Linked DNA regions of Homo sapiens. The protein of the gene in region 1 purifies or fractionates together with the protein of each later gene. This does not show direct contact. Each region holds a gene or a part of one and is shown in the gene's direction. Other genes may lie near its edges. The genes, in order: HK3, SLC2A8 and SCAMP1.

What was found.
Region 2: the proteins of HK3 (region 1) and SLC2A8 fractionate together in Homo sapiens (co-fractionation; one large-scale study listed by BioGRID). This does not show direct contact.
Region 3: the proteins of HK3 (region 1) and SCAMP1 fractionate together in Homo sapiens (co-fractionation; one large-scale study listed by BioGRID). This does not show direct contact.

What each region holds. Positions count from the first base shown.
Region 1 is NC_000005.10:176,885,847-176,889,569, reverse strand, and holds part of HK3 (hexokinase-3), read left to right. Parts: intron 1-5; coding exon 6-189; intron 190-705; coding exon 706-861; intron 862-1,004; coding exon 1,005-1,238; intron 1,239-1,823; coding exon 1,824-2,119; intron 2,120-2,232; coding exon 2,233-2,369; intron 2,370-2,448; coding exon 2,449-2,568; intron 2,569-3,672; coding exon of another isoform or gene 3,673-3,723. UniProt on the Homo sapiens protein: Catalyzes the phosphorylation of hexose, such as D-glucose and D-fructose, to hexose 6-phosphate (D-glucose 6-phosphate and D-fructose 6-phosphate, respectively).
Region 2 is NC_000009.12:127,400,169-127,403,668, forward strand, and holds part of SLC2A8 (solute carrier family 2, facilitated glucose transporter member 8), read left to right. Parts: intron 1-2,388; coding exon 2,389-2,585; intron 2,586-3,491; coding exon 3,492-3,500.
Region 3 is NC_000005.10:78,412,477-78,416,199, forward strand, and holds part of SCAMP1 (secretory carrier-associated membrane protein 1), read left to right. Parts: intron 1-3,043; coding exon 3,044-3,142; intron 3,143-3,723. UniProt on the Homo sapiens protein: Functions in post-Golgi recycling pathways. Acts as a recycling carrier to the cell surface.

The sequences.
Region 1 (3,723 bases):
GCCAGACACGGGCACCAACGCGTGTTACATGGAGGAGGCACGGCATGTGGCAGTGCTGGACGAAGACCGGGGCCGCGTCTGCGTCAGCGTCGAGTGGGGCTCCTTCAGCGATGATGGGGCGCTGGGACCAGTGCTGACCACCTTCGACCATACCCTGGACCATGAGTCCCTGAATCCTGGTGCTCAGAGGTGACCTGGCAGGGGGCCCTGACCTTTGGTTCCAGGCCCTGTCTATGACTGCTCTGCTCCCAACCCCTTCTGTCCCTGTTCTCAGGCCCTTAGGCCCCTCCCTGTCACTCTGAGGGTCTCCAGGGAGCAACCTGGGGGCCCTGGCCAGGTTCAAAGAAGGAAGGGCCCAAAGTTCTAGAATCCAGAATTGTCAACCCTTGATCTTCCCTGTTCCTGACTCTGGCCTGCCCTGACAGTTTGGGGGTTGAGGGCTGGAAGTGGTTGAGCAAACTGCTCTCTGCCTTCCTTTGGGTCCTTCTTGTTCTCCAGGAGGCTTCTGAATGTAACCTATGTCAGAGGGGGCAGTGGGGTCTGGGCATACACCCACCTGTCCTCTGGGAGGCTATTCGTTGCTTCTGGAGTCTCCAGTTTGGGAGCCCCAAAGAAAAGAATCCTTCTTTGGGAACTCTTGGAGGTAGGGCCAGGTGGACTGAGGGCTTAGAAAAGGCTTCCTCCAGCCACCCTTCCCCCCTGCAGGTTTGAGAAGATGATCGGAGGCCTGTACCTGGGTGAGCTGGTGCGGCTGGTGCTGGCTCACTTGGCCCGGTGTGGGGTCCTCTTTGGTGGCTGCACCTCCCCTGCCCTGCTGAGCCAAGGCAGCATCCTCCTGGAACACGTGGCTGAGATGGAGGAGTGAGTCGGGGAGATGGTGGTTTAGTGGGGGATTCTTGGCTTGGAGGAAGGGGATGATACTCTGTTCCCAAGGTAGCCATGGGGCTTTAGTGGGATGGGGAGCTTCTGGGCTGAGCCCCAAACCACTTCCCTTTCCCCTCCAGCCCCTCTACTGGGGCAGCCCGTGTCCATGCTATCCTGCAGGACTTGGGCCTGAGCCCTGGGGCTTCGGATGTTGAGCTTGTGCAGCACGTCTGTGCGGCCGTGTGCACGCGGGCTGCCCAGCTCTGTGCTGCCGCCCTGGCCGCTGTTCTCTCCTGCCTCCAGCACAGCCGGGAGCAACAAACACTCCAGGTTGCTGTGGCCACCGGAGGCCGAGTGTGTGAGCGGCACCCCAGGTATTGTGGAAACGTGATCCGCATGATTAGTTGGCATGAACACGTGTGTGTGATACACACCCAGAGGGCCCTCTGGGATCACATGTGCAAGCCAGTGGACACGAAGGGCACTTAGGCAGAGGGAGGGCCAGACTGAGCTATGGGAGGCCAGAAGACATCCAAGGAGAGAAACGATGCTTCCCTTTGTGTGTGCAAGGGTGGAGGCCATGGCGACACGGGGGCGTATGGCTGGTGCACAGAACAGATTTCAAATTGAAGTGATAGGGGAGGCTGGCTATGGTGGTACACGCCTGTAATCTCAACACTGGGAGGCTGAGGTGGGAGGATCATTGGAGCCTGGGAGTTTGAGGTTACAGTAAGCCATGATCACTCCGTGGCACTCTAGCTTGGGTGAGAGAGCAAGACTCGATATCTACAAAAATAAAAAAAAAAAAGTGATGGGGCCTTGGGCTTCAGGAGGCCCTAGGGGTCTGGGGCCAAGCTGGGCACACCTGTATGTATCTGGGGGTCCAGGGCCAAGCCGTGCACACCTGTGTGTGTCTGGGGGTCCAGGGCCAAGCCGGGTGCACCTGTATGTATCTGTAGGTTCTGCAGCGTCCTGCAGGGGACAGTGATGCTCCTGGCCCCGGAATGCGATGTCTCCTTAATCCCCTCTGTGGATGGTGGTGGCCGGGGAGTGGCGATGGTGACTGCCGTGGCTGCCCGTCTGGCTGCCCACCGGCGCCTGCTGGAGGAGACCCTGGCCCCATTCCGGTTGAACCATGATCAACTGGCTGCGGTTCAGGCACAGATGCGGAAGGCCATGGCCAAGGGGCTCCGAGGGGAGGCCTCCTCCCTTCGCATGCTGCCCACTTTCGTCCGGGCCACCCCTGACGGCAGCGGTAAGGACCTGGCCTGAGTGTGGGACCGAAACATGGGCTCCTGGGGGTCCCAGTGTGTGCTGGGGCTGGAGCCACAAGCCCTATCCCGGCACTGAGGGTCTCTGCCCCCACAGAGCGAGGGGATTTCCTGGCCCTGGACCTCGGGGGCACGAACTTCCGTGTCCTCCTGGTACGTGTGACCACAGGCGTGCAGATCACCAGCGAGATCTACTCCATTCCCGAGACTGTGGCCCAGGGTTCTGGGCAGCAGGTACCCACAGCCTGAACCTTGATGTCAGAGGTGGGGAAGGGCTGAGCAGTGCCTACGCCTGACCTGTCCTGCCCCACAGCTCTTTGACCACATCGTGGACTGCATCGTGGACTTCCAGCAGAAGCAGGGCCTGAGCGGGCAGAGCCTCCCACTGGGTTTTACCTTCTCCTTCCCATGTAGGCAGCTTGGCCTAGACCAGGTGAGGGAGGGCCAAGAGAAGTGATTCCCAAGGGCCTCCTGCCCCCACATACCCTTCATGGAGTGGGCAGGAGGCAGGGGAAAAGGCTGGGCGGTGGCGGGTCTGGGGTTGGTGGTGGTGGCAGCACTGCTGGGCTGGGCTTGCACACAGCCTCAGTTTCCCCAGACAGGGTAGGCCCAGGGTTAGGGTCTGAACCATTTGGGAGCAGGTCAGGCCTAGACTGGGGCTGATCAGAGGACAGATCGTCCATTTTAGCTATAGCACTGGTGTGTGGGCCTCAGGGTCCTGCAGGAACCAGCATTTGTTCCTGTCTCTAGCAGGGGCTTGAGGTCGCTTGGGGTTTTTTTGGCCTCTCTCCTCCTCCTTTCTTTGTTTCCTTCTCAGTGCCTGGCTCAGTGTTGGGTGCATGACTAGGGTGGCAGAGTGCCAGGCACAGGCTAAGACACACATCCCTACTCAGCACACACTTTAGCTTGTTCTTACACAAGGATGAGGGACTTCTCAATGTGCACACCGGAAGCCTGTCACGGAAACAATACCTCCCGGGCCTCTGGTCCAAACTCCCAGGAATCTCCCTTTCAACATACCCAACTTCTGCTTGAAAGCCTCTTGCCAAGGAGCTCACTGCCCCTGAAGGCAACAGTTGCATTCTTAGACACCTGTGATCAATGAAAAGCTTCATCTCACCTACTCCAACCAGCCTCCATGTGATTTTCACCCCCTGCTCCTGCTCTGACCTCTCTCTGATATGCAACTCATTTTTTTTTTTGAGATGAAGTCTCACTCTGTCGCCCAGGTTGGAGTGCAATGGCATGATCTTGGCTCACTCACTGCAGCCTCCACCTCCTGTGTTCAAGCAATCCTCCTGCCTCAGCCTCCCAAGTAGCTGGGACTACAGGCACATGCCAACACGCCCAGCTCATTTTTAGTAGAGATGGGGTTTCACCATGTTGGCCAGGCTGATCTAGAAATCCTGATCTCAGGTGATCCGCTCACCTCAGCCTCTCAAAGTTCTGGGATTACAGGCGTGAGCCACCGCACTCCACCTGATATGCAACTCTGTACTCTGCTTTCTTTTACACGGTGGTCCTTTGGATGGTGCAGTGGGCCAGTCTTGCTGCTTGGCTGCTCTGCTCCAGGCTAAGCCTGCTCAGT
Region 2 (3,500 bases), on another chromosome or scaffold:
TTTTTTTTTTTTTTTGAGACAGAGTCCCGCTCTGTCGCCCAGGCTGGAGTGCAGTGGTGGCTCTCTGCAACCTCTGCCTCCTGGGTTCAAGCGATTCTCCTGTCTCAGCTTCCCAAGTAGCTGGGACTACAGGCATGTGCCACCACACCTGGCTAATTGTTTGTATTTTTGGTAGAAAGGGGGTTTCACCGTGTTAGCCAGGATGGTCTTGATCTCCTGACCTCATGAACCGCCAAACCTCAGCTTCCCAAAGTGCTGGGATTACAGGTGTGAGCCACCGCGCCCGGCCGATAGGTGTGTCTTATGACTGAGTTCCAGGGACAGCTGGAGAAGGTGATACCCTCAGCTTTCCTGAAGCCCCCTCTAGGGGTGTGGGAAGGGCTGACTGCTTAGGTCAGTACCTTACTGTGCAGTGACAAACCAGAGGGCTCCAGAGGTGGGTGGGTCCCTGTAAAAATCTTCAGCCCGGGCGAGTAAAGGGCTGAGCAAGTCCCCTGAGAATGTCAGTGCCAGATTCACCATGTCGGCGAGTTGCAACGTGAAGGAGGCCGGGGTCCTGGGGACCCCGAGGGGCAAAGCTGGGCCAGCATGAAGAAACTTCAGGAGACAGGTGTGTTCTCATTAGAAAGAGGCCAGGCTTTAGAGGCCAGACCCAGTGGCTCACACCTGTAATCCCAGCACTTTGGGAGGCAGAGGTGGGCGGATCACTTGAGGTCAGGAGTTCGAGATCAGCCTGGCCAACATGGTGAAAACCCATTTCTATTTAAAATACAAAAATTAGCCAGGCGTGGTGGTGGGCACCTGTAATCCCAGCTACCTGGGGGGCTGAGGCACAAGAATTGCTTGAACCCAGAAGGCTGAGGTTTCAGTGAGCTGAGATCGCGCCACTGCACTCCAGTGTGGGCGACACAGTGAGACTCTGTCTCAAAAAGAAAGAAAAAACAAGGGCAGGCTTCAAATCTGACCATCCTGAGTTTGGGGATAGCCTCTCCTACGTGCTGTGTGACCTTGGCCAAGTCATACCACCTCTGAAAGCCTCAGTTTCTCTGTCTTGAAATGGGCATAACCTCATCTAGTCCAGTACCTGTCCATTAAATTAATTGACACATGAAAAGTGCCTAACAGTGGGTTCCAAATGAGAATTGTCAAGGGATGACTTGAGAACCATGGGGATCATCGGGGTAGGAGGCCTCGGGGGCCTGACGGGCTATGGCCTGGCCCAGGGCACAAGCCCTCTGCATCGTCAGGGCGGATGATACACAGGTCTTTGGTGTTTCATTTTTACCCACTTAACCACCCTAACAAATTCAGAATCCTGCCAGCGATCTGGCTACCTTGGGAGACCTGAGTAAACCAAAGCCCCCACTGTGTGCAGGTGTTGACATTCATCATTTCGGGGACAGGTACTGGGTGTCCACCCACCCGTGGCACTATCTTCAGCTCATCTTAATATGTGCTTGTTGCTTCTCCTGCCTTTCCTGATCAATTTCTGTGAGTTTCGATCCACTGGGGTGGGTGAACTCTGATAACTCCACAAAGTGACATGGTGGTGGCACGTTTGCTTCACATTGGGGCAATCATGTTCCAACGACTAGACTTCATAGAACAATTGTCTGCACCCCCAGCACAGAAGAAAAATAGGGACATCATGGCTACCTTAGAGGTATTTTTCCACTGGGAACCAGGGATGGGTAAGCCTTGGGCTTAGGAAAAATTAGTAATTAGAGCAGCAATGCCCTAGACTCATTTATTCCAGGGCCCCTTTGTAAGAGAACCTTTTAACTTTATATAAAACTAGGTAATTCTGCACTTATGCTGTTCTTCATACGTCAAGACAGCAAAATCCTCTCACCTCTCTACTTTCATGTATACTTTGAATAGATAATGCATTCAAATGACTCAACACTCAAGTGCCAGAGTGGAGAGATGTCCAGTGAAAAGCTTCCTCCGCCTCTGTCCCTTTCTTGTCTGGGGGAGTCCCCATTGCCTGTTTCTTGGTAGCCTTCAGAGAGTCTGTTCATATGAGGGACATGCATATTTATCCTCCCTCCCCCACCTCTTCTACAAATGGTGCCACATCATACCATGCGGACACGCAGCAAGCACCTCATCCTTCATTTTTGTGGCTACATAAATGTTTCGTTGAACGGATGCAGCCTAGTAATGTCCGCGTTGTCATACCCACTGTCGCTTCCGCAGCTGGTGTGATTGGCCCGTGCCATGTGCCTTCATGAACAGTTGTGATAATGGCAATGTCAGTAGCGAACATGAGGGCAGATGTGCAGAGGCAGCGAGGCCCCATCTCTGAAGCTGAGTCTTTGAGGCTGGCAAGGCCCAGGCTGGCTCACCCTGGCTCTGACGCCAGCCTCCTCCACCCACCCCCCGCAGGCTGGGTGCTGGAGTGGCGCTGGCTGGCTGTGCTGGGCTGCGTGCCCCCCTCCCTCATGCTGCTTCTCATGTGCTTCATGCCCGAGACCCCGCGCTTCCTGCTGACTCAGCACAGGCGCCAGGAGGCCATGGCCGCCCTGCGGTTCCTGTGGGGCTCCGAGCAGGGCTGGGAAGACCCCCCCATCGGGGCTGAGCAGGTGAGAGGCTGGAAGGCAGAGCTGACAGGAGTGGGACAGCAGTCACGGGAGGGTAGCACAGCCTGTTCCCAAGGCCACACACTTGGGGGGTGGGGGACAGGGAGGTGCCTATCCACCCTCCACCCTCAGCGAGGACAGGCCCAGTGTGTCCTGTCTTTGAGCAGGCCAAGACAGCTGGAGCCCCACGGAGCTGGGCCCTGGCCTCCAAAGTCACCAGCAAAGCCCGAGCTTTGACCCTTACTGTCCCAGGAAGAGAATGGCCAGGCCTGGTGGGGGATACAGAGGCAGAGCTGAGGACTTGGATTTAACAAAGGAGTTGCAAGGCAGGGTAGAGGGCTAAAAGTCTGGGTTTTAGAGTCACCCAGGCATGGGTTTGAAGCCCCCACGCTGCCCCTCACCTAAGCTTTAGCTCTTCACCTGTGATGTGGGAGTCAGCACCTGCTTCACAGTGCTGGGTGGGACTCAGTGGGGGAAAGGAAGGCGGGGCTTAGGGAGGAGGGGGGCTCAGTGGGGAGGGTGGGGTCAGCGAGGAGGATGGGTTCAGTGGGGAGGGGAGGGTCAGGGCTGTAGGAGGTGCTTAGCTAGGGCCAGGCCCAGACCTGAGGCAGGTGCTGGATGTGTTGGTGGTGGCAGGGATGAGGGCAGCAGCTTGCTCTTTGCCCAGATTACCTCTTTGTGGCTCCCCCCCACCTATCAGGAAGTGCCCTGGGCAGGTGAGGGTCATCTCACCTGACACATGGGGAGGCTGGGACTTGTCTGCACACCTGAGGACACAGGGGGTGCTGGGATGAGGAGCCAAGACGTGGGAGTCAGCGCTCCCCAAGCCTTAGGACAGTAGACCCCCAGAGGGGGGCCGCTTGCGGGAGGGGAGAGAGAAATCCTGATGGCCAGTATCCGTCAGAGCAGAGCTTTCAC
Region 3 (3,723 bases), about 98 Mb from region 1:
ACAGCATTTGCTGACAACCTTTTGTATTTCCATTGACTTGAAATGCTATCTTGATCAGTGCTTTAATTTTCATATGCACCACCATTGTGTATATTGTGTAAATTCCAATTTTGGTATTGTCAGAGTTTGTTTTTCTATCTCATGGTTTTGAAATGATATATGATTGTTTTTGCACTTCTTGATTACTAGTGCTGTTACACCTCTTTTCACATGTTTATTGACCTCTTTCTATTGCTTGTTCAGATCTTTTGCTAGTTTTTCGATTAGTTTGTATTTTCATGGATTTGTAACAATTCTTTATATATTCTGGGTAGCAATTTTCTGTTATATGCATTACAACTATCTTTTCCTAGTCCATGATTTGACTTTTTACTTTTTGTAAATTTCAGTGTAATTAAATTCGTCAATTTTGTGTGGTGTGTGTTTTCCATTCTTAATTTGACAGATACTTACTGAGCATCTACTGTTTCAGGGACTATTTTGGGTACTTGGGATAGGTCATAAACAAAATACACAGTATTTCTAGAGTTCATATTCTAGAAGCTCAAGAAATATTCATAAAAATATTCACATGTATTTTTCCCTGAAAGTGTTTAAGTTTTGCTTTTTCAGTTTTAGATCATGAATTTACCTCGAATTAATCTTTGTATATGATGCGAAGTAAGAAATGTTTTTTTTTCCTATATGAGTAACCAGTTATCCAGGCACCGTTTATTGATTAACACATTGTTTCTTCACTGTTTTGTAGTGACACCTCTGTTAGATATCAAGTTTCTGCATTTGTGTGGGTTTGTTTCTGTGTCTGTTTTGTTTATTGGTACACTTCTCTGTCCTTGCATCTGTATTACACTCTTAATTACTGTGGTTCTATAATAAGCCTTGATATCATAGGTCTTCCTACTTTGTTTTTCTTCAAAATGGTTTGACCTGTTTTTAGTTCCTGCCTTTTTTTTTTTTTTGAGATAGACTCTCACTCTGTAGCCCAAGTTGGAGTGCAGTGGCATAATCTGGGCTCACTGCAACCTCTGCCTCCCAGGCTCAAGCGATTCTCATGCCTCAGCCTCTCCAGTAGCTGGGACTACAGGTGCACACCACCATGCCTGTCTAATTTTTTGTATTTTAGTAGAGACGAGGTTTCACCATGTTGCCCAGGGTGGTCTCGAACTCCTGAGCTCAGGCGATCTGCCCACCTTGGCCTCCCAAAGTGCTGGGATTACAAGTGTGAGCCTCTGCACCCAGCCGGTTCTTGCCTTTTGTATATGCATTTTAGAATCAGCTGAACTACAGTTATATCTTTGGTTATGCGTGGCTTCCTTTTCAGGGCTGCTGTTAGCTGTGTCAGAGTAAAATCCTGCTATATATTGGTGGTGTCTTCTGGTTTTAATAGTTCTTAAGATCCTTGAACGTCCTTGTGCAGCTTCTTTCTTTTTTATATTTTTCTTATTTATGACCTCCCCCTTCCCTCCCTCTTCTCTTTCTTTCCTTTCTTCTTTTCTTTTCTGTTACTGTTTTTGCTTCTATTGTTCTTTTCATGTTCCCATCCTTGTTTTTTGTTTTTTTCTTATGGTCATTCTAAAGAGTACTTTAAAAATATATTTTTATTAAAGTAGTATATGGTGCATGTGTCGAGGGAAGCAAATAATACAGAGGCATATAAAACAACAGGTGCAAGTCCGTCTGATATCAGGTGGCCGAGACTTCCCAGATATTTTATGGGGGCATGTATAAATCTGTGTCTGTTGAAAAAAAGGTCATATACAGACTGTTCTGTAGCTTGCTTTATTTTTTAATTTAATTTTTATTTTATTATTATTATTATTTTTTGAGATGGAGTCTTGCTCTGTCTCCCAGGCTGGAGTGCAGTGGTGCGATCTTAGCTCACTGCAACCTCCGCCTCCCGGGTTCAAGCGATTCTTCTGCCTCAGCCTCCCAAGTAGCTGGGACTGCAGGCGCCCGCCGCCACACCTGGCTAATTTTTGTATTTTTAGGAGAGATGGGGTTTCACCATATTGGCCAGGCTGGTCTCGAACTCCTGACTTTGTGATCCACTTGCCTCGGCCTCCCAAAGTACTGGGATCACAAGCATAGGACACTGCGCCCGGCCAGCTTGCTTTATTTTATTTAGTATTTTAAAAGACATTCTTCTATCGCTAATTTATTCTCATGGCTGCATTGTATGTATATACAGTAATTTAACCAATCCCCCATTGATGGACTTGTAGATGTCTACTTCCTGATCTTGCAGCTTTCAGACACTACTGATCCTCACTGGCAAAGTGGAAGTTGGGTAATTTATTTTCTCTCTCCTTACGCCTTCCCTTTTACTCTTTTAAATTTAGTGGGGTTCTACCAAGAACTTTCCTGTATACTCTTCAGAGCACTGGCATGTAGCTTTCTCAAGAGGGAAGAGTTGGCAGTAAACCTTGGTGTAGTTCTTTTGTCTGGTTCTATCTGTATTTTACTATTAAACTCAAAAGTTCTTTTTTTTTTTTTTTGAGATGGAGTCTTGCTCTGTTGCCCAGGCTGGAGTGCAGTGGTACAGTCTTGGCTCACTGCAGCCTCCACCTCCCCGGTTCAAGTGATTCTCCTGCCTCAGCCTCCCAAGTAGCTGGGATTACAGGTGCCCGCCACCACACCCGGCTAATTTTTGTATTTTTAGTAGAGACGGGGTTTCACCATATTGGCCAGGCTGGTCTTGAACTCCTGACTTAGGTGATCTACACGCCTTGGCCTCCCAAAGTGCTGGGATTACAGGCATGAGCCACCATGCCTGGCCTCTATTAACATACGGTATCCTGGAGGAGAGTGTTTGTCATATAGTGTTATAAGTAGCAGTCTGATTGTAGAGTTGAAAAATGAATGAGTTGGAGAAAATGGAGATGGAGAATTTAAGCAGCTCTTTGCCACACACTTGACTATGAGAGAGCAGGGAATGAAGAGATGCAGATTTTGGGATTTTTCATTTTATTGGTGTTATACTTTTTGAAAGAAGTTAAAGTTGGATCTCTGTGTTACATAATTTTCCTTCTCTTAATCCTCCTAGCCTCCACCAGGCGGTGTGAAGATGCCTAATGTACCCAATACACAACCAGCAATAATGAAACCAACAGAGGAACATCCAGCTTATACACAGATTGCAAAGGTTAGTTCATGTTAGTTGTATAAATTCATATTGGCCATTATAATATCAATAACATTTGCTTTCAGAGCAAAATAAATCTTTATATGGTTACATTTCTGTTGCTTAATTTTTAACTCACTTTCAAGTCTGGATTTGCTGTCTTGTCACCCTTCAAATACTCATTCCTCTTTTTGTCAGCTTATACCATTTGCTTTATTCCATTATTAGGAATTATTGAATTTATGTATCATCTCAGTGGATAAATTTTTATTGCCTTTGGTCCCACTTTTTAATGCACACTACCATTAAGGTAAAAATGATGGAATAATAGATATTATTGGGAGAGCGTTGCAATGGTAAAATAACAGTGTTAGGAGGTAGAAGATGGCAAAAATCTGAGAAGAAAGGAGATTAATAAGATGCCTGATAGCATGTAAGGGCAAATTGAGTTATAAAGAATTTCTTAATCACATCTTTTGACCTCATTCTCCTATAACATTTAAGATATTAGAAAATATTCTTGCATTGGTGGCCTTATATATCATTTAATCTGATTAATAGGAGCCAATTCAGTTGCCCTTTTTTCTATTGTTCATTTTCCT